Homo sapiens: one gene and its partners. The protein of the gene in region 1 purifies or fractionates together with the protein of each later gene. This does not show direct contact. Each region holds a gene or a part of one and is shown on either strand. Other genes may lie near its edges.

What was found.
Region 2: the proteins of IRF9 (region 1) and ANKHD1-EIF4EBP3 purify together in Homo sapiens (affinity purification with mass spectrometry, with the first as the bait; 2 studies listed by BioGRID). This does not show direct contact.
Region 3: the proteins of IRF9 (region 1) and ANKHD1 purify together in Homo sapiens (affinity purification with mass spectrometry, with the first as the bait; 2 studies listed by BioGRID). This does not show direct contact.
Region 4: the proteins of IRF9 (region 1) and FBLN1 purify together in Homo sapiens (affinity purification with mass spectrometry; 2 studies listed by BioGRID and IntAct, with this or other methods). This does not show direct contact.

The regions. Positions count from the first base shown.
Region 1 is NC_000014.9:24,164,254-24,167,096, reverse strand, and holds the end of IRF9 (interferon regulatory factor 9), read right to left. Parts: intron 2,511-2,843; coding exon of another isoform or gene 2,484-2,510; coding exon 2,142-2,483; intron 2,041-2,141; coding exon of another isoform or gene 1,914-2,040; intron 1,251-1,913; coding exon 1,135-1,250; intron 976-1,134; coding exon 901-975; coding exon of another isoform or gene 842-900; 3' UTR 532-841; downstream 1-531.
Region 2 is NC_000005.10:140,544,791-140,550,076, reverse strand, and holds the end of ANKHD1-EIF4EBP3 (ANKHD1-EIF4EBP3 protein), read right to left. Parts: intron 2,416-5,286; exon of another isoform or gene 2,340-2,415; coding exon of another isoform or gene 2,237-2,339; intron 1,172-2,236; coding exon 1,001-1,171; intron 844-1,000; coding exon 840-843; coding exon of another isoform or gene 815-839; 3' UTR 501-814; downstream 1-500. Other genes in the region: EIF4EBP3 (eukaryotic translation initiation factor 4E-binding protein 3), read right to left, coding at 815-843, 1,001-1,171, 2,237-2,339. UniProt on the Homo sapiens protein: May play a role as a scaffolding protein that may be associated with the abnormal phenotype of leukemia cells. Isoform 2 may possess an antiapoptotic effect and protect cells during normal cell survival through its regulation of caspases.
Region 3 is NC_000005.10:140,502,831-140,509,872, reverse strand, and holds part of ANKHD1 (ankyrin repeat and KH domain-containing protein 1), read right to left. Parts: intron 5,053-7,042; coding exon 4,907-5,052; intron 4,752-4,906; coding exon 4,640-4,751; intron 4,150-4,639; coding exon 4,004-4,149; intron 3,039-4,003; coding exon 2,896-3,038; intron 2,089-2,895; coding exon 1,875-2,088; intron 237-1,874; coding exon 61-236; intron 1-60. Other genes in the region: ANKHD1-EIF4EBP3 protein, read right to left, coding at 61-236, 1,875-2,088, 2,896-3,038, 4,004-4,149, 4,640-4,751, 4,907-5,052. UniProt on the Homo sapiens protein: May play a role as a scaffolding protein that may be associated with the abnormal phenotype of leukemia cells. Isoform 2 may possess an antiapoptotic effect and protect cells during normal cell survival through its regulation of caspases.
Region 4 is NC_000022.11:45,526,856-45,533,897, reverse strand, and holds part of FBLN1 (fibulin-1 isoform D precursor), read right to left. Parts: intron 6,052-7,042; coding exon 5,889-6,051; intron 2,634-5,888; coding exon 2,574-2,633; intron 836-2,573; coding exon 734-835; intron 138-733; coding exon 1-137. UniProt on the Homo sapiens protein: Incorporated into fibronectin-containing matrix fibers. May play a role in cell adhesion and migration along protein fibers within the extracellular matrix (ECM).

The DNA of each region.
Region 1 (2,843 bases):
TGGGGCTTAGATAGAGCAAGGAATCCAGTTTGGGAGTACCCTGCTGGGGTGACAGTGAAATTGTGCTGGAGGAAGAGGTGCCAGTAACAGCAGGTACAGTTTCAGCAACTCTTCTCTCTGACTCCTCTGTTCTCAGGTCCCAGGGCCTCTAGACCATAGTTTCAGGTCACCCTCAAGTGTCTCCTCTTCATTTAGACCTCCAATCTAACTAACCTCAGGCCCGATGTTGGGGCCTTCTAGCAAGAACTGTGGAGCCCAGACTTTACCATGTGAAGTTGGTGGCTATAGTGCCTGGCTGAAGGCTTGGTGCCCAACCCACACCCTAATCTTATCTGCCCAGAGGGTACCTCTGTAGAGTGCCAGGCCCAGGACCCACAGGGCCCAGGCAGCATCTTAGCCAGAACCTGTGGGCAGAGGAGAGGAAAGAGGCTGGAGATGTCAGCAGGAAGAGAACCCCAGTGCCCCACTCTTAAGTTTACATCTCTATCTGTGACCACTGCTACCTTCTTCTCCCAGAAAATCAGATACTGATTCCTCTTTCAATAAAATTTTATTTTAAGTCCTTAGTGAATATCTAAGAGGAAAATATAAAGTGCTTGGCTTTAGAGTTGGGAGGTCAGGGAAGAGGGAAAGGCCCCCTGGGTTCACACCATTTGGAATTTCCTAGTCCCTTACAGATGAAAGAGGGCGTATATCTCAAAATTAAAAAAAAAAAAGGATAAAAAATTAGCCTTGAGTTCTCCACCAGCCAGTGTGTGCGAGGATTTTCAGGACACGATTATCACGGACAACTACTGAGAATTATCACAAAGAGGACAGGTCAATCGTGTGAAGAATGAGTCTACTTCAAAGGAGACAGGAAGAACAAAGAGGTGAGGTGGAAGATGGGTCCCCCAGGCTCTACACCAGGGACAGAATGGCTGCCTGCTGCTCTGGAGTCTGCTCCAGCAAGTATCGGGCAAAGGCCTGCTCCATCTGTATTGGAAGAGATGGAGAAGAGCATCTCAGTGCGTGCATCAGGGACAGACACCACCCCCAGGAGCTCCTTCCCCACTGGGAGACCCCCTTTGCCTCCTGGAGCACCACTGTCTCTGCTCTCATTAGATGGGTACTCTACCCCTGCTCCGAGCTCACCTTCACTGTGATAAGATTCTGTGGAGTATGGCTGGAGCCATGGCTCTCTTCCCAGAAATTCAGTGTTACCTGGAACTTCGGTGGGGGGCCCAGGCCCTGAAAGTACCTGACCAAGTCTGAAAGAGAAAGGGTCAAGGGTTCGAAGAACAAAAAGAAGAGAGAGGGCCACAGGCAGGGAGGCAATAGTGAGGAACCCATGATGGAGAGAGGTAGGAGGGGGTCTTGCCAGAGCAGGAGCTGCAAGGTCAGAAGTACTTGGAACTAAGTGCTACTCACCCATGTGCAAATAGGAAAGGGTGCCCCTGCCTCATATAAGTGCTTAGAAGTAGCAGATCACAGCACAGCCCGACAAGCTCTCTGCTGGGAGAGTTTAGAGTCCTCCCAGGTAGCAGCCCTGGCTGCTAACTCAGATGTGCCCAGACCTTTGCTACTTGCTCACATCCTCCCAGTGCTAGGGCACCCATGGCCCTGGGAACACCCACACTCTGCACCCCCTGTACACCTGGTCCCACTCTTAAGGTCAGGTTTAGAATTGAGTAGGAGCTGGAATTGGATGGGAGAGAAGCGCAACCCTAAGGCATGCCTGGAGTGTGGTAAAGACGGTGCAGCCAGGGCCAGTGTGTGTGATGTGTGCCAGCTCTCCCAAATGTGTGTACGTAGGAGAAGGCCATGAGGCTCAAAATCTCTGTGCCAATTCTTCTGTGCACCTTCACATAGTGACTGCATGCTTCAGTGTGATGGTGTTCTCCAAGATATGACACTCTTGTGCTGGGCTCTACCTGAACCACCTCTTCCATTGTCTTGGCTGGAGGAGAGCTGCCAGGTAGCTGCCAGGCTGGGCATATGGCCACACAGGATATGCAACACACAAGCGCAGGAGTGCCATGCATAGGCTACATGGAGGATCTGCTGGCAGATAGGGAGGTAGCAGGACCCAACAAGTTGGGCCCAGGGGGTACTAAGAGGTAGGGGGTGGAAGCTCATGTGCCCAGAGAGAACAGCCTCACCTCTGCAGAAGTAGGCGGTTCTGAAGAGCTCCACGCACTCGTTGCTGGGCAGCAGATGCGGGCCTGGCCCAGGTGGAGCCTGGGGTGCATTCCAGGAGATGGGGATGGGGCAAAGGCGCTGCACGAAGAGGCCTCGGGGGTTGCTGGCCACTAGGATGCCCCTCTCAAGCTGGCTCAGCAGGCGCTGCGTGGGCTCCAGTGGGCCAGGCTTGGGGAACAGCACCTGCTCCATGCTGCTCTCAGAGCCTGAGGGCTCAGCCACAAGGCGGCAATCCAGGCTTTGCACCTGGGCCTCGCCCACCACGCGCCCGTTGTAGATGAAGGTGAGCAGCAGTGAGTAGTCTGGGGATAGAACAGCCCTACCTGGTGCTGGAGGAGCATGCAGGCTGGCAGCAGCCCCTCCCCAGGGGAACAACTCCACCTCCCCTCCCCACACCAGCCAGGGGGCTTCCTCTCAGGTTTTCCTATCACTGAGGCAAGTAGCTAGTATGTGATTCACCATGAGGCCTCAGGGCTCAATGCCCAGGGGCTTGTAGTTTACTAGAAGGTCCCTTGAGATTGGGCCTCTGTTTGGCCCAATGAAATCAATGTCTCAATGTAGATTTCCAGGAGAGTGTATAGGGTGGTATTTTTGGGAAGCAAGCTTTTTGGAGTCTGGCCAGGCATATGGAATTCTCGCCACCTAGAAACCACTGCCTAGGG
Region 2 (5,286 bases), on another chromosome or scaffold:
GCTGCCTCATTTTGGGTTTCAGTGTGAACTCTAAGGTCTCTTGTAACCCTTTGAGAGAGGTACTTGGTGGACTATCATGCTGTGAGAAGGGTACAAGGTTTTTGGTGTTGGAATAGAGGAACTGGTGCTTAGAGGTGGGAAGCAGAAAAGGCACAGGGAGAGACAGGATGGCTATAGGCTGGGACAGCACCTCTTTTCCAAGAGTCCTGCTTTGGAATGGATAGGGGAGGGGCTGCTGGGGGGCCCTGGTTCCAGGAAGGCTGCTTCCTGGGAAGACAGGAACAGCCCTTGGCAGTGGCCAAGCTATTGCTGTTTATGGTTTGGAGGCTCATGTAACCTGCCACTGTAGCGTGCCTCAGGTTCTAATTGCTGCTGGAAGTGGGCCTGGTGGGAGCTGGGAATGATCTGAGGCCTCTGAGCTTAACCAGGCCTGCCAGGGCCTTCAGCTGTGTGGCTGAGATGAGAAAATCAGCATTGAGGAGAACACTGGAGCCAAGGCATTTCTTTGAATGTTTACTAAGCAGTCAGAAGGTGACTTACTCCATTCCCCAGTTCCAGCCCCTGAGCATAGAGGGTTTAGGGTTAGGAGGAGTACCACAGACTGAAGAGGAAGTAGAGTTAAGGGCTTGGCAAGTTGCCCACTCCTATCCCTGGTCTAGCTGCCTCAGAACTAAAGGAGGCCTGGAACTAACAAGTCACTCCCTTCCAGATTAGATGAGGCCAGCTGGCCTTTGGATGCCCCAGGAAGAGGTGGTGGCAGCAGTGGCATGAGGGATCCCTCTGTAACTCCACATGCCAGGTCATCTGCACTGGATTAGATGTCCATTTCAAATTGTGCGTCATCTGGAGAGAGAAAAGGCAGGAAGACAGGTTGCTGGTCTGAGGATCTGCAGGCTCAGCATCAGTGCAGAAACCCCTCTTGGAACTGAACCCCCGCACTGTGTCACAGTGGCATTTGAACTCAAAGGCTGGGACAATTCTTAATTCCTGCTTTCCTTACCGGGTATCTCTTCCTCTGTCTCCTGCTCCTTCAGCTCCTCCAGCTTGGAGAGAGGGGCTGTTGGAGGAGTTGTGACCCCGGGAATCTGAGGGAGGCAGCAGGGGGGTGTCCGGGCAATGGGTGAGTTCTTGCACTCCAGCAGGAACTTTCGGTCGTAGATGATCCTGGTGCCTGTCAAGGGGTTGGGACTGAGGTAAGAGTCAGGAGCTTGGGTACCGAGGTGACTGGGGTCCCAGACTCAGGCCTTTTGGGGCCTGGAGGTGAGGGTGGTGTCAAATTTCCCTGTGTATCAAAGGACATCGGCTCTGAAGCCCAGCTAGGTTCTCAGCAGACAAGCCTTCATAGTGCTTAAAATCTTCCAGACCTAACCAAGATGTGGGTATAAAGCAAGGGGGGCATCCCAGCTGGTATAGGCAGGGGCTTTATGTTTGGGAGAGCTTCAGATCTTGGCTCTAAGAGGAACACCAAACTTTGAGTTCAGGTACTTCATGCTGCTCCTCTACCACTCTGAAACCTCTGCTTTGGTCTCACCAGTGAAGGTGAGACCTAGACTAACAGCCTCAGGTGGTTCAAGAAGTGAAATAGCAGTTGTGAAGGGTTCCACCCAGTGCTGTTACCTGGGCTATCTCCTGCAGGGAGGAGAAACGTACTGTTCTAATCCTGACCCCTCCCAGGTCCTATAAGGTTCACACTAGCTCAGAGGAACTTGGCCCGCATAATGTCCTCAAAGGGTCCTGCCCTGTTCCTCCCCTCCGCTTCCGCGTGGCAGGAATCCCTGGGTCGGGAGCCCAGCAGCTCGTGATCCCAGGCTGCTCGCCCAACCAAACAGACGCCAGCCAGCAGCACAAAAACGGAGCAACTGCCCCAACTGTTCTAACTACTCCACTTCTCAAGACCCGGTGCTTCCGGCTGAGGTCACGCTCAGTAGGGGGCCCTGGCCCCTATTCCTAGGAAGCAAAGTCGCGAGGGGTAAGGAGCGTGTGTAAGGCTCCAAGAACCCAGGCCACAGTGAAGGATTACAGCCCAAACACCCGGAAGCTAGGCTCATGGCCTTGTTGCATCACTTAGAAGTTTTTGGGAACTGAGCTTCCGCTCCAAACATTCTCCCCCAAAGCTACAACCTGTAGAGGGGCCTGCGGACAAGTCTTAGGTCTGTCCCTCCCCTACCCCCGCCCCGCAACAACACGCACGCGCTAATATGTCCGCAGCCTGCGGACCCCTGCCCGGCCCGCTGACCTCCGGGGGTAGTGGCGTATAGCGTGCCCCCCGGCGTGGTGCTGTAGCAGTCGGGCAGCTGGTCCCGGCCCCCGGGAATCGGGCAGCTAGTGGACGTTGACATAGCGAGCGGGAGGAGCAGCAAAGTAACCGCCTGGCGTTGAGGTCGAGGAGCGCAGCTCTGAGTCTGAGGCGGACTCAGCCGACCACGTGCAGCTGCTGGCAACAACACTAGAACAACGTCACGCCCAGGGCGGGCCACCGGCCGTCACTCAACCCGACGGTCCCGCCCTATCTGCTAGGAAGCCAGCCCGGTTCAGAGAAAGCTGGAAATGCGTCCAAAGTCCCAGGCCCCACACCAGCTTCCAGTTCCTGCTGGCCCAGCGCTGGCCAACCTGCCTGAGTGCTGCAGCAGCTCAGCTATTTACTGTTTATAGCCGGGAGCTGGGGGCAGGTGAAGTAGGGCAAGCGTTTTTATCCTGTATTAGTTCACCCATTCCTTGCCAACTTTTGGATAGTAAAGCACTATGATTAGCCAAAGTCACACATCTTGCAGGAAGGGAAGCTGGGATTCAAATCTGACTGCATCTGATTCCAGGACTGTGCCCTTAAGCCCAGCTGTGTACTGCCTCCCATAAACAGTAACAGTACAAGGCCGGGTGCGGTGGCTCACGGCCTGTAATCCCAGCACTTTGGGAGGCTAAGGCGGGTGGATAGCTTGAGCCCAGGAGTCTGAGACCAGCCTGGGCAACATGGTGAAACCTAGACTCTACTAAAAATACAAAAATTAGCCGGGTGCGGCAGCATGCGCCTGTAGACCCAGCTACTCGGGAAGCTGAGGTGGAAGGATAGGTTGAACCCAGGAGGCGGAGGTTGCAGTGAGCGGAGATTGCACCACTGCACTCCAGCCTGGGTGACACATGCCTTGATGGCCTGGAGCACAGCAGGAAGGGGAAGGTCAGTGAGGGCTGGTCATCTTTCTGAAGAAGTGGTACCTGGACTAATAAAAGGATGAGTCAAGTTTGGGGGCTACAGCTGAGGCATCACCAGTCAGAAGGCCTGCCCTTTGATCTCTTTGCCAGTTAACTAAGGAGGGGCAGGGGGCTAGTGAGGAGGGCTTGGTCTTTAGAAGGAAAGAAAGGTCAGAGAGTTTGGCCTTGGAGTTTTTTTTTTGTTTTTTTTTTTTATGTAGACACAGTGATATGACAGGCTGGAGCAAGGTGGTGGGATTGGTGAAGATGTATATATGCTGGAAATCTTGAATTCATCAGGCTGTCCTGTTTGGCTTCCTCAAAATCAATACTGCCTCCACTGTCCCTTCCCCTCACCAAAAATTAAGTATAGACCACCTGACTGCATCCATTTATCAATATTAACTCAGCTCTGGCTTCATCAGATTTCTCCTTAGGTCTGATTTCTTCACTCATTTAAAAAAAGATTGCTTCTCAAACTATTTATTTTCTGAGATAGGGTTTTGCTCTGCTGCCTAGGCTGGAATGCAGTGGTGTAATCTCAGCTCAATGCAAACTCTGCCTCCTGGGTTCAGGCCATCCTCCCACCTCAGCCTCCTGAGTAGCTGGGACCACAGGTGCCCACCACCACACCGGGCTAATTTTTGGATTTTTTATAGAGACAAGGTTTCACCATGTTGCCCAGGCTGGTCTCGAATTCCTGAGCTCAAGTAACCTATCTGCCTCGGCCTCCCAAAGTGCTGGTGTGAGCCACCACACCTGGCCAGCTTCTCAAACTTTAATGTGCATATAAATCATCTGGAGATATTGTTAAAATGATAATTCTGATACAGTATTGGTCTGGGTGAGATTTTGGATTTTTTTTTTTTTTTGACACAGGGTCTCACTGTCACCCAAGCTGGAGTGTAGTGGTACAATCATGGCTCACTGCAGCCTCAACCTCCTGGGCTCAGGTGACCCTCCCACTTCAGTGTCCTCAATAGCTGGGACCACAGGTGCATGCCACTGTACCTGGCTAATTTTTAAATTTTTTGTAAAGGCGGGGTCTCACTATGTTGCCCAGGCTGGTCTCAAACTTGTGGGCCCAAGCGATCCTCCCAAACAGGCATCCTCCGAAACAAGAATTACAGGCATGAGCCACCGTGCCCAGCCAGTTGTGGATTTTTTTTTTTTTTTTTTGAGATGGAGTTTCGCTCTTGCCGCCCAAATGGCATGATCTTGGCTCACCGCAACCTCCGATTCCCGGGTTTAAGCGATTCTCCTGCCTCAGCCTCCTGAGTAGTTGGGATTACAGGCATGTACCACCACACCCAGCTAATTTTGTAATTTTAGTAGAAACAGAGTTTCTCCATGTTGGTCAGGCTGGTCTTGAACTCCCGACCTCAGGTGATCAGCCTGCCTCGGCCTCCCAAAGTGCTACGATTACAGGCATAAGCCACCACACCTGGCTGGTTTTTTTTTTTTTTTAAGATGGAGTCTTGCTCTGTCACCCAGGCTAGAGTTCAGTGGCATGATCTCAGCTCACTGCAACCTCTGCCTCCTGGGTTCAAGCGATTCTCCTGCCTCAGCCTCCTGAGTAGCTGGAATTACAGGAACCCACCACCGCACCGGGCTAATTTTTTGTATTTTTAGCAGACATCAGGTTTCACTATCTTGGCCAAGCTGGTCTCGAACTCCTGATCTCCAGTGATCTGCCTGGCTTGGCCTCCCAAAGTGCTGGAGTTACAGGCATGAGCCACCGGGCCTGACTGCAACTGTGAGTTTTTAATACAGTAATGCAAACGCTTCAGGGCCTCAGAAACACACTTCAGGTATCAAGGGTATGTATATTTTATTGTCCCGAAAAGGATTTTGAGTATCTTACAAAATGGTGCATGCCAAAATGAAGTGTCTTAGCAGTGCTGGAGGGTAAAGCTTGGGAACAGATTGTAGTGAATCATTTATGATAACTAACCTTTTATGCAACGTGAGGAAGTGTCTGACAGGGGGAATGGGAGAATAGGGTGGAGGATGGTGAGATTTGAGGGTAGAGTCCAGTCTAGTGAAACCAGGTGGGCAAACGGGCGATGGCTGTGAGGATGGAGAGAAGTGGATGAGATT
Region 3 (7,042 bases), on another chromosome or scaffold:
AAAGCTCTGAAAAGTGAAAATGACCATGAGAAGTTCTACATATAATAGAAAAGTACTCACCTATGAATCAGGAGTTCACAAAATTTGTAGTGACCTTTGTCTGCTGCTATTGTTAAAGCAGTATCTCTTGAGGAAGGCACAGGGGGAGCATTAACATCTGCTCCTTTATCAAGAAGAACTCTTCCAACCTCTGCATACCCTCCAGAAGCTGCTTCCATCAAGGGGGTAAGACCCGTCTGTTTAAACCAATAAATTATGCAACTAAGTTACATTTCTTTTTTTAACTATTCCGTAGACCAAAACTAAGCTACATAATTTCTTTAAAAACCTGAGGCAATTAACTTTTAAGACAATTCTAGTTCTGATTAGCTCTCATAAAAGAGCTAAGCAATATTTTGCCTTGAATTTTACTAAACAGCAGTAGAAATTGTTAGATTCAGACGTGCTAGAATGAACTTAAAACATGTTATCTCATGCTAAAAACAATTCTGTAACTTCTATACTTTTGTGAATTTACTCAGATAATTTCTTTGCATAATGAATAGAGATATTAAAAATAAGTAGATTAAAATCACTTTATAAATTTTTTGCATATGTGCCTTTGGTACGTTAGTCTCCAACATTTTTTCAAAGGACATTTCCTACTGGTACTATCCAAAATAACACAGATTTCTCTAGGACCTTTAATGGATGAGTGGCACACAATGAATACTTGTAATAGAAAAAGACAAATTGAATGACAGGAAAGACTCATTTCTCTTTGTGTGGTAAAAAGCCAAGGAAAAACTACACTTCCTCATTACTTAGATTAAAAGAATGTAAATGTTGCACTAAACTTTAAGAAGTAAAAGGAATTTCAGGGAAGAAGTACGAGATTTCCAGTCAAATCTTTCCAATTTCAAATGAGCACTAGATTCTCTGTTGACTAATTATTAAAAATTCTACCCAACCTACGTCTTTCCAGAGTTCTAAGAACCTTGCAGTTCTAAGCAAAGAAATTCAAGCCAATGACATACTAACTCCTATTTTCTTTCCTCTGTGTGTGTTTCCTGCATCTATGGAGATTATCTTATGACTTTTCTCCTTTATTCTTTCTTTTTTGTGGGGGCGGGGGGTGGGATGGAGTTTCTCTCTTGTTGCACGGGCTGGAGTGCAATGGCGTGATCTCTGCTCAGTGCAACCTCCACCTCCCAAGTTCCGGTGATTCTTCTGCCTCAGCCTCCTGAGTAGCTGGGATTAAAGGCGCCTGCCACCACGTCCAGCTAATTTTTTGTACTTTTAGTAGAGACGGGGGTTTCACCATATTGGTCAGGCTGGTCTCAAACTCCTGACCTCATGTGATTCACCTGCCTAGGCTTCCCAAAGTCCTGGGATTACAGGAGTGAGCCACCGCGCCCAGCCTCCACTAACTCCTATTTTCTTAATACCAAATAGTCATGAAACTGTCAAAATCTGCCATGGTCAAATTAGATGTTAGCTGCCCTAATTTTATAACTTGTGAATTAAATTTTTGCTTGGGATTTTTACAATGATAAGCACATACCTCATTAAAGGTGTTCTTTAAAAGTCTACAGTGTAAGAGTTAATACAAAATAATCTTACTACATTCAAAAGTTGTAAGCTGCAGTATTAATAGAAAGCTACTCAAGGCTGAGGTTGGGAAAAGTACTAATTCTGTTTTCTTCATTGTCCTTAATAAAAGTCATGATGGTGACAGTATGTCACTCACTATTATACAGCATAATCCCTCAACTCTGCATTGGTATCAGTTTTAATTTATGATAATTTAAAATATTATATTCAATTTGCGTTAAAATGCCATGTTCTTTCTACAGAAATGTATCTGAAATAGTTGACAAGTAAAAAATGCTTACCTTTGCCCTATGTTCAACATTGGCTTTTCGGTCCAGAAGCAAACTCACTACTTCTGCTCGGCCCTGGAAACAGGCCAGGGTGAGAGCCGTGTTCCGATTGGTCTCTATTTGGGCATTAATGTCTGAACCCATATCGAGCAGCAATTTTACTGCAGGAACATGTCCATTCATTGCAGCCAACATCAGGGGAGAAATACCTAGTTTACTCCCAGTCCTAAAGGGGGAAATGTGCTTAGAAAATTAAAATAATATGTTGCCTATTATTTTAGAAAAGCATTAAAGATGAAAAGGTTTCACTAAAAAGAGAGGTTTCTAACATCAATGAATAGATTTTACTTGTTTCGACCAATAATAAAGAATAAGAAAATGTCACAATTTAAAACATAATTTCCGGCCAGACATGGTGGCTCATGCCTGTAATCCCAGCACTTTGGGAGGCCAAGGAGGGCAGATCACCTGAGGTCGGGAGTTTGAGACCAGCCTGACCAACATGGAGAAACCCCATCTCTACTACAAATACAAAATTAGCTGGGTGTGGTGGCGCATGCCTGTAATCCCAGCTACCTGGGAGGCTGAGGCATAAGAATCGCTTGAACCCCGGAGGCAGAGTTCGCGGTAAGCCAAGATCGCGCCATTGCATTCCAGCCTGGGCAACAAGAGCGAAACTCCATCTCAAAAAATAAATAACTTAAAAAATAAAATGTAATTCCTATTTAGGGATTATAAATTTCCAACTATATAAAATAAAATACCGTTTCTGAGATCAGATGAGATTGGGCACGTTTAGGGTGGTAGGCCATAGAACAAAACACTTTTTGAAATGAGACCTCTTTATAAGCAGCCACATTACTGAAATAAGCTGAGATTACTTATAAACAAACACATTATAGGTATAATCGTTGGCTTTGCAACTTTAGTACTATCTTAATTTAAAATGTATCTGTCTAAACGTTAAGAGGTAGACATTTAAGTCCAAAGTAGTAACTTACTAAACATGAACAATAAAATGAACAGGCAATACCTTGAATTAATTTCTGCCCCAGCATTAAGCAGAATCTTAATGATATTAACATATCCTCCAGACGCAGCTAGACTCAGTGGTGTATAATCAGATACGTTCCTATGTTCTTTATTTGCACCTCGAGCCAGCAGCAAGTCTACCACCTACAAAGTAAAATATGGATAGAGAAGAGAGTTTACACCAAGGGCTCAACTTATAATGAAGGAAACACAAAGAAACAGGACTTATAACTTCCTTATCTAAATATCTGATATTTTAATTACATTTCATTAGACCCTAAATATTGAAATATCAACACTAGAGAAATGGATTCAATTTCAGGAATTCAGAGTTTTGAAATCCCAATTATACTGCAATAACAAGATGTTACCCTTTCTATTTGCCATTTATTGGGCAATAAATTTGCACTTCATATGTGTTAGAATTGTGATTCATTCAATCCGAATAAATGTAAGGATTAAGATAATTTTTATTTGGCTTTAAGGGCAAGAAACAGATTTTTTAAAAGGGGATTTATGGCCAGGCATGGTGGCTCATGCCTATAATCCCAGCACTTTGGGAGGCCAAGGCAGGAGGATCCCTTGAGGCCAGGAGTTCAAGGCCAGCTTGGGCAACATAATGAGACCTCATCTCCACCCTCCTGTTCCCTCCACAAACCCCCGCCAAAAAAAAAGGGCATTTACATTCCCATAAAAGTTAACAGAAGTACCCATTCCTCAGAAAGTATATGGAACATGTTAAAATACGTGCAGGGCCAGGCATGCTGGCCCATAACTATAATCCCTGTACTTTGGGAGGCCGAGGAGAGAGGATTGCTTGAGGCCAGGAGTTTGAAATCGGCCAGGGCAACATTACATGACCCCATCTCTACAAAACAGCCCTAGCTACTTGGGAGGCTGAGGATTGCTTGAGCCCCAGAGTTCAAGGTTATAGCGAGCTGTAATTGCACCACTGTACTCTAGCCTGGGAGACAGAGCAAGACCCTGCCTCAGAAAAACAAACACACAAAATACATGCAAATTTTATTCATGTAGCTAAAATACGAATCATATGCATATTTTAAAATACAAGCAAAATATTTACAAAATGAAAATTAACATTAACACACCTCCTGACGTCCACCAGAACATGCCAATGAAAGCGGAGTATCCTTAGTTCGTTCAGACTGTGCTTCTATATCTCCACCTTTATCCAAAAGGATTTCAACAACTCCAACATGCCCTGCTGTTGCTGCCAGGATTAGTGGTGTGAAACCTAAATCAGAAAATGAAAATCTTAAACAAATTTATGTTTTTTATTTTATTTTAAAGCCACTGTTTACAATTCTCTAGTATTTTAGCAAAATAAATCCTTCAGGGCAGACACTGATAATGAGTTAACATAAAACTGCTCTAAACCCTAATTTGTTAGTGACAAAAAACCCATAAACACCTAATTAAAAAACTAAGTCGGTAAAAATTATTAAAGTTTATACTCATAATGAACTTTGATGCCTCTGTATGAACTACCTTTGGATTAACAAAGGCAACCACAACTTGCTCTATTTCACTAATGATCTACGTCTAATTTTTGAATGTTTTGAGAATTATTTGGCTCCGCAGAATAATGAATCCAGATATTCCTAACTGAAATATACTTATCCATCTTATCACTGAGATAGTCTAGGAACTATTTATCAATAATAAAAAAGTTAATTATTTTCTGATGTAACTACACTTGGATTTTATTTCTGACTGATATTTACCTTTTTTGTCTCTGTGTTCAATTTTGGCATCCCGTGCAATGAGCACAGATACAAGTTCTTCATGACCACCTGCACAAGCTAGTGTTAATGCTGTGTCATGATTGCTCTCAGTCTAGGAGAAGAAAAAAATAAGTTAAAATTTTTTTTAACAGAAGTTATCAATTTAAGAGCAAATAATATTTCTTTTCACAATAAATGCAGAATAATTTTCCTTTCCAAAGAAGATCAGAATGTGCAAAATAAGTTTAAATAAAGCAATCTACTCACATGTGCATCAATGTCAACTGAAGGATACACAGGAGGCATCGATTGGGAAGCCACATTGCTTGTAGTCTGCGAACAGGATTCAGGTGTAAGACACTCTGTGGTCTGAGAAGAACTGTTGGAACCAGTGGGCACTCTGGTACTCACAGCTGAAAAACAATATTCATATTGCTAAATTCCACTTAAAAGAGTAAGGTTATTTGTACATAGAAAAACACAAAAACAGAAATTTCCATAGCAGTAATATGTAGTAATAGTAAAATCACAAGCTTTGGAATCAGACAGACCTACATTTAAATATTAGTTCCAACACTGACTTTCTGATCTTGGGCAAGTAATTTAACTTCTCTGAGCTTCAATTTTCCCTATATGTAGAATGGCGAAAATAATGGTACCTGCCTTGGAAGGTTATTGGAAAGACCACTGAGGCAATGCAGATAAAATACTTAACACAGCACCTGATATTTAGTGCACATACATTAAATAGTAGCTTTTTGCATTGCCAACAGGGAGGAAAAAAAATTTCCAAAAATAAAAGTAAATAAAAGGAATTCTAGATTTTAGTTTGTAAAAAAGTCAATTAGATAAAAATATCCTGTGTACAATTCAAAAAAAGGGGGCTGGGCGCAGTGGCCCACGCCTGTAATCCCAGCACTTTGGGAGGCCGAGGCGGGTGAATCACCTGAGGTCAGGAGTTTGAGACCAGCCTGGCCAACATGGTGAAACCCCATCTCTACTAAAAAAAACAGAAAGTTAGCCAGGTGTGGTGGTACATGCCTGTAATCCCAGCTACTTGGGAGGCTGAGGCAGAAGAATTGCTTGAACCCAGGTGGAGGCTGCAGTGAGCTGAGATCACGCCACTGCCCTCCAGCCTGGGTGACAGAGCTAGACTACATCTAAAAAAAAGGGTGGGGGAGGGGAGGGAGACAAGTTCAAGTATTTCTCACATAAATAGCAGGGAGTATGTGTTTCCTAAATTCAATATTTATTTTGAAACTTTGTTAAAAAATCAGTATCTGAAAGTCCAACTATTTTTAAAATGAACATTGAAGTTCTATTTGAGATCTCAAAATGTGGTTTGAAAACTGAGTTAAGTCCAGGAGCGATGGCTCACGCCTATAATCCTGGCACTTTGGGAGGCTGAGGTGGGCAGATCACCTCAGGTCAGGAGGGTTGGGAGTTCAGGACCAGCCTGGCTACCATGGCAAAACCCCGTCTCTACTAAAAACACAAAGTTAGCTGGGAGTGGTGGAACGCGCCTGTAAGCCCAGCTACTCGGGAGGCTGAGCCAGGAGAATCGCTTTAACCTGGGAGGCGGAGGTTGCAGTGAGCTAGGATCGCACCACTGCACTCCAGCATGGGCAACAGAGTGAGACTCCATCTCAAAAAAAAAAAAAAAAAAAAAAAAAAAAAAAAGAAAGAAAACTGAGTTAAAAGAAATTATGTATTTTATATCTCTGAAAATTTCTTATGTTTCTTAAGAGATGGAGTTTGACCACGGGGGGAAACAGGACCTATCTCAGGGATGTTGTGAGTAGTCTAAGAGATACTGTATATAAAGCATTTAACACAGTGTTTTTAGCAAATGGTGGGTGCTCAATAGATGTAACTATCAGATATTTTATAGGATTGTCAATACTATTATTCATTGTATTGAAAAATAAAAACATTATTCACTCAAGAAAGGAAAAACTCAGAAAAAAACATATAATCAGTAATAATATACAAAAAAATCAACAAAGCATCAGTGATGGCAATAACCTTACATTTGCACCCAGATTAAAAGTCAGTCAAAAACACGTAGGACTTAAAGAAAAATGTAAGCATTTTAAGTGTTGGAAAATATTTTCTCTCTAGAATTTTTGATATGACTAGATCCCATTCAAAGATACTATTCGTAAGTGTGAATGACTCAGTTTAGTAGATTACTAGTTTAAATAAGTGAGCAAAGTTTAAGATGCCCAGATATATTTCTACATGAGCTACCCAGCTCATCCCCACCAACATATATAACCATCTTGGCAATACAAATTTCTCCAGCTTCTGTCATCACATAAATAACATAATTTAACTATTTAGTTACAAATAGGAATAATTATTACATATGTTTGTTTCACCTATAAGAATATGCAAAATGGA
Region 4 (7,042 bases), on another chromosome or scaffold:
TTTGCAGCTATTGTCCTCTGTGAGCTCATAGCCAGTCCCGCAGCTGCTGTCCCGCTGGCAGCGGAAAGAGCCCACTGTGTTGATGCAGGATTCTCCAAGCCGGCAGCTGTGGCTGCCCGTGATGCATTCATTGACATCTAGGAGAGACCGAGGCAGTGCGGGGGTGACCAGCAAGAACGACCCATCCTAATACATCCTAGAAAGGAATGTGCCAAAGCCACGGTGGAAGTGCTTCCCTGCACCCTCGCAAACTGAGCTCAGGTCCACCATGTGCACATCCGGGCTGTGGACTGCACGGAGTCGAAAGCAGTGATTTCTCTCCCCTGCTAACGTTCATATCTACTGCTTTTTCTGAGACTGTAGTTATGTGGTCCTCAAGAACCCCACGGAGGGGCAGCATCTTCTCCATCTCCCCCATCTCACAGACGCGGGGGCCAGGAGAGGCTGAAGGATGTGCCCAAGGCCACTCAGCAGATCCTGGATCCGGAACCTGGTTAGACCCCAACTCCATCCTCTTTCCCAACCCCAGTGCTTATATTGTCTTGGAGGGAAGTCTCGGCAGGGGCCTCTGCGCTGCAAACTCCAGCGAACACGAGAAAGCGCGTCCTGGGCTGCTCTCCACCCCTGAATGGGGTCTGGGTTGTAGAAGGCAGGCCCTGGTCAGTCCTCCAGCACAGAGCTCCCAAGCACAGTGACCGGCCAGTCCTGCTGGCACCTGGGATAGGGACATTACCTTCACAGGAGACACCATCAGACAGCAGCTGGTAGCCCACGAAGCAGGAGCAGACCACCTCGTCACCCGTGTCTCGGCACTGCTGCTTGCAGGGCCCGCCTCCTGGAAGCACAGCGTGCATGAGCCAGGGATGGACGCACCCAGGCACCGCCTGGTTTCTAGCTCCGTTCAGGCTGGGTCATAGAAAACGCCCTCTGGGCAGACGAACCCAGGAAGGCAGGCTGACCTGGCTGGAGCCCACCTGCTGCCCTACTGGGAGACCCCCAGGCTCTGGCTCTGGACACCCCCCAGGGGCTGCTGCTTCAGGTCCCAACCTCCCCGTCTGGAAAATCAGGTGGTGTGCAGGGTGCCCTTTGTAGGCTGGGGTGGACCTGGAAGGGGCGAAGCAGAGAAGAGCTCACTGCCGGTCACAGACATGGGGGTGTGGGCTCCACGTGGAAGGCCAGGCCCCAACTAGGCCTCATGTACCTGCTCCTCACTGAACTCTCGAGCTGTCCCACTGCTCCAAGCCCACTACCATGGCCTCAGTTCCTGCAGCTGCCCACCTGGCTGTGGCCACAGCCTCCTACCTGGTCTTTCTGCATAGCCCAGAAGCACCCCACAACCTGTTCTTCCTACAGGGTGGCCAGAGTGATGCTCAGAGTGCAAATCTCATCAGGATAAGCCTCAACCAGGGAAAGATTCTACGAGATACACTTCTAACTGCTGCCAGCCTGCCTGCTTCTAGGGCCCCTCTCTCTGGCCCTGTAACCCCACCTCCTTCCCCAGCCCACTGCCTCCCAGTACCCTGCTACAGTGGGTCCGTGCCCTTTACAAGGCTTCAGGTCTCCCTGAGGACCGTTTCAGGGTTATTTTCCCAGCTAATCCCACCTCCTCCTTGCAGACCAGCTCTCCCCTCCCCAGAAAGCTCCTCCCATAGCCCTGAGGCTTGCTGGGGCTCTAGGTCACTCCCTTCCTCCCTCCACCAGGCCCCTGGACAGCGCCCCTGGACCAACTGTCACTGTACACTGACTGCATCATTTAAGAATTAAACTGGCCCCTAATTAACACCCTAACCACAGGGGGAACCACTGAAAGAGCTTGTGAGGCAGATCTGCAGGTCTAGACATGCCAGAATGTTCCATGAAAGAAAAGCAGTTTTATCATATGAAAAACAAACCTGCGAGGCCCTTAGTTAAATGTGCAGACATCTCCCTGTGAGGCAAATGAATATCACCAATGGTGACAGAACCGTGGCTGGGGCTCCAGGGGCACAAAGGCAGGGAACGCTGAGCCCCCTCCTCTCCCCTGAGAGCCTGAGGGAGGCCTCTGTCACCTTCACAAGGCCTGGGGGCTCGGTAACGTGCAGGCTTTCCACACCAGCTCTGGCCCTGGGCCTGGGCCACCCTCCCCAGCAGGGCCTCACCAGGGCCCCTCCTTGGTAAGCCCACCCTTCCCCTCCCCAGCCAGCCCTAGATCTGGAAGGGGAAAGGGAAGGAGGAGCTGGGAGTCCACGACTCCTCAGGGTGGAAGTGGCTCATGGCTGGCTCCCAGCCAAAGGGTACTTTGCAGGGTAAACCAAAGCAAAACCTGGATTCCAACTTCCAGTGAGATCAGCACCGAGATTCCTTGGTTTTGCTTTTTGTTTGTTTGTTTTTTTGTTTTTGAGACGGGGTCCAGCTCTGTTGCCCAGGCTAGAGTGCAAAGGTGCAGTCATAGCTCACTGCAGCCACAACCTCCTGGGCTCAAGGAATCCTCCTGCCTTGGCTTCCCAAAGTACTAGGATTACAGGCCTGAGCCACCTTGCTGGCCCCTTGGGGTTTGTTTAAATACCAACTGATGGGAGACGCCCGAGTCTCACCTCGGCAGCGGTCATTCAGATATGGGTCCTCTTGTTCCTCCTCAACCTCAATGATCTTATCTAAGGGGGAAAAAGACCAAGTCAGACATTTATCCAAACACCCATCTTATCTTAAAAGAAACTCCCAACATTCTCTCTTCTTGTCACTATCAGGCAGTAATGCCCATTTGAACATCTTATATAAACAGCTAAGTATTAACTTTATCCTCTTTAAGCTAGAATTACACTTGAAAATGTATAATTGATATCTGATCAATTATAGGCCAGGCGTGGTGGCGGGCACCTGTAATCCCAGCACTTTGGGAGGCCGAGGCAGGCGGATCACCTGAGGTCAGGAGTTCAAGACCATCCTGGCCAACACGGTGAAATGCTGTCTCTACTAAAAATACAAAAATTAGCCAGGTGTAGCGGCATGCACCTGTAATCTCAGGTACTCAGGAAGTTGAGGCAGGATAATCGCTTGAACTCAGGAGTCGGAGGTTGCAGTGAGTCAAGATCACACCATTGCACTCCAGCCTGGGCAACAAGAGCGAGACTCCGTTTCAAAAAAAAAAGATCAGTTATAACAGAAAGACCACAGACACAAAGGCCTGTAATCATTGACTTCATGCTGGGTGATATTCCCATAGTCCAAATTACTTGACCATCTCAGCAAATGCAGTCACAGCCTTGCTAACAACCAACACACGCCCTCCAAGTCTAAAGCAATGCACGCAGTAAAAACTTGAGTCTCCTGATTGATTCTATCAAATGCTATTATGTGTTTGAAAAGGGTTATTCTCCATTTCTGTACTTATTTGTCGCAGGCCAGCACTGGTCTGGGGACCTTCTGCATGGCCCCCAGGAAACATACAGTGGGTCCATGGCACTGGTAGCAGTGGGAGGAAGGTGCGGCTGTGAAGACAGGAAGCCCTCCCAGAGGAGGGAGCATGCGAGGATAGTCTGGGGCAAGGACTGAAGCAGATAAAAGACGGAGAGATAAAACATCTAACATCTGGAGCTGCAGAAAAGCCCAGAGACTGCTCACGCTGCAGACATAAATCAGTGAAAATCCACCCCCGAGATGCAGGAGAAATCCTCCACCAGCAGGAATGGTTTGGGTTTGTTTAAAGTGAAAATGTCGTCTCTGATTTCAAAAGCCAAGGAATGAGGCAGAATGCGGCCCCAATCCCTCTTGATGACTGTAACATCTGAAATCATCTCAGTGGCATCCATGGGGCCCTGGACTTGAAAAACTAAGAACAATAAGTGAAAGATGAGTCCCGGGTGACCCGGGTCCTCTGTGACCAGGGGCCCTACAGCCTGGACTTGAAAACCTAAGAACAAGAAGTGAAAGGTTCCGTGTCACCCAGGACCCTACAGCCATTACCTTGACTTAGAGACTACAGGTCTGAGGGTTCTTCCCTTTCGCCCCTTCCGGCACCTCCCCACCTCTTTATTTATTTTATTATTTTTTTTGAGACTGAGTCTCGTTCTGTCACCCAGGCTGGAATGCAATGGCGCCATCTCGGCTCACTGCAACCTCCGCCTCCCAGGTTCAAGCGATTCTCCCTGCCTCAGCCTCCCAAGTAGCTGGGATTACAGGCGCCCGCCACCACGCCCAGCTAATTTTTGTATTTTTAGTAGAGACAGGGTTTCCCCATGTTGGCCAGGCTAGTCTCGAACTCCTGACCTCAGGTGATCCGCCTGCCTCGGCCTCCCAAAGTGCTGGGATTACAGGCGTGAGCCACCGTGCCCAGCTCACACCTCTTTTATTTTTTAAGAGAGTGGGGGCAAAGCTCAGAGAGAGGAGGGAACAGGCCGAAAACTACACAGCAAGCTTGGCCCAGGCGGAGTCCTGCCTTCTTCCAGGTTAATTCTGTTACAGCACAAGAAACCGTGGCCTAAGTGTAAGAGGCTACTGGACAGCCACAAAGTCTCCTGAACCCTGTAACTGAACCACACAGAAATGCAGGGCGAGGACACAGAACGGGGGGGCACACAGCTGAGAGCGCTCTTGAAGCTGCTCTTGGGGTCACATGCCCCTTTGCTGAGTAAGTGTCTATGATTTGACAGAGCATAGCCAGCTATTAGCCAGCGATGGCCCCCAGCTGCTCGCCCATACATCGTCAGCTCCAGATGGAGAGGGCACTGGCCAGGAGGTGGAAGGCCAGGCTCTCCCTCCTCCACGTGTCGGCTGTGCGATCTTCAGCATCAGACCCTCACCCAAGAAGTGGGAGCAAGGCCAGCCACCCATGCTGCCCCGGGCAGCTGAAGGGACAAGGGCAGATGGTGAGGGCAGACATTTATGGGGCCAGGTGCTCTACCCAACCCTTGACACCCAATCTCGCACTCCATCCTCCCAGCACCTGATGAAGTAGGACTGCAACTATCCCCACTTCCCAGATGAGGGGACCAAGGTACACATTAGGACCCGGATGGGAGCACAGATTTGTCCGATCCCAGACTCCAAGCACTCAGCGTCACTCCAGGACAGCGGCTTTCAGATAAGGTCACAAACATGAATGGCTCCGACAACCGGAGTTAGTCCGTGCTGAGTTAAGGCAATGGTGACACGGATGCACGTGTTACCTGTAATGGTTCATCGTAAGTGTCAATTGGGCTGGGGTATGGTACTCAAATATTTAGTCAAACACTAGCCTGGATGTTGCTGTGAAGCTATATTTTAGAGATTAATATTGGCCAGGCACGATGGCTCACACCTGTAATCCTAGCACTTTGGGAAGCTGAGGCAGGTGGATTACCTGAGGTCAGGAGTTCCAGATCAGCCTGGCCAACATGGTGAAACCCCATCCCTACTAAAAATACAAAAATTAGCCAGGTGTGGTAGTGTACACCTGTAATCCCAGCTACTCGGGAGGCTGAGGCACAAGAATCACTTGAACCCGGGAGGCGGAGGTTGCCGTGAGCCAAGATCACACCACTGCACTGCACTCCAGCCTGGGTGACAGAGAGAGATTCTGTCTCAAAAAAAAAAAGAGATTAACATGTAAGTCTGTTGATGCTGAGAAAAGCAGATCATCTTCATACCATGGGTGGGCCTCACTCAATCAGCAGAAGGCCTTCAGAGAAAAAAGACTGGCCTCCCCGGGAAAGGCGGCGTTCTGCCAGCACACTGCCTTTGAACTCCAGCTGCAATGCCCCTCCTTCCCTGGGGCTCCAGCCTGAAGGCCTGCCCTGCAGATTTTGGACTTGCCAGCCCCACGATCACATGAGCCAAGTCCTTAAAATCTCTCTCTCTCCACTCTCGCTCTATATACACATCCCGGAGAACCTTAATACACTGCTCATTAGGGAAGGAAGGGGGAAAGTTACCCGTTTCTTGGAGGCCCCCGACATCCAAATCTCCGGTCTCCTGGCTCTTGACACAGCATGCCTGGAAGACCTGTCCACACTGGTAGCCAACCATGAGGCTGTACTCGCAGCTCTGGCCCTGGGCCTGGGCCGCCCTCCCCAGCAGACAGCAATGGCAGCACCTCTGCAAACACAGGTGGAGATCCCAGATGGAGGAGCGGGCAGACAGCCCAGCGGGGTCCACGAGAGGCCTCAGGGGAGGCCTCTCTGAGCCCCCTGTCCACACAACCTGTAGAGTGATGACTCAAGTCTGGCTTAGATACCACTTCTAAATGTCAGCAACAAATAGCAAAGCAAGGCCATCCCCCTACTCCAAATCATCTAGGTCCCAGTTTTGAAAGGAAGCTTAAAGGGCCTGGCATCCACCTCCCCTCCCCACCCCAACATGCAATTGCACCCCTCAACATCCCTGCCCCGCCCAGAGACCACCCGGCTCTGCTCGCACACATCCAGGAAGAGGGAGCTTCTTATAGCACCATGCACCAGCTCCAAAGTTCTGTTCCTTTTGCATGGTCTGAGATTTCTCTACCATGCCCGGAAAAATGACACACATGCATGCTGCCTCTCCGTTTTTGAGTTAGAGGGGTTCTGGCAGCAGGAATTGCACCGTGCATTTGAAAGCACAGGAACTTCAAGACGAGTCATCAAGCAAGGTCAAAGGACAGGGTGGCTGTCTGCCACCTGGGCCCAGGTCCCAATAGTTACTTCCAAGTCCCTGTGGCCTCACACCTGAGTCCCAGAAGCAACATTTGCCCTGACACACGAAAAGCCCTGCTTCAGTCTTTATTAAGTGGTTATCCTAAGAGGAGCACAGAACTTTCTAAACAGTCCCCAGCAGGAGCCAGGAGGTGTAGCTTTGCCTCAGTTATGTGGCACTGATGGGTCTTCCAGGCTGCTTATTCTACGCCCTCCGCTGCCAGAAAGTGTAGGGAGCATCAGTCACCTCATCCATCTTTTGGGGTGTGAGTAATCCTTCCTGGAAACACAAGTCGCTCATCTGCCAGAGAGATCTGTTCCCACTCCTGCTAGAATGTTCTGTGCTTTTTCCACACCTCTCAAGTCTGGGGACATGGGCACAGCTGTGTGCCGGACCGACGGCATCTGCAAGGCCCAGC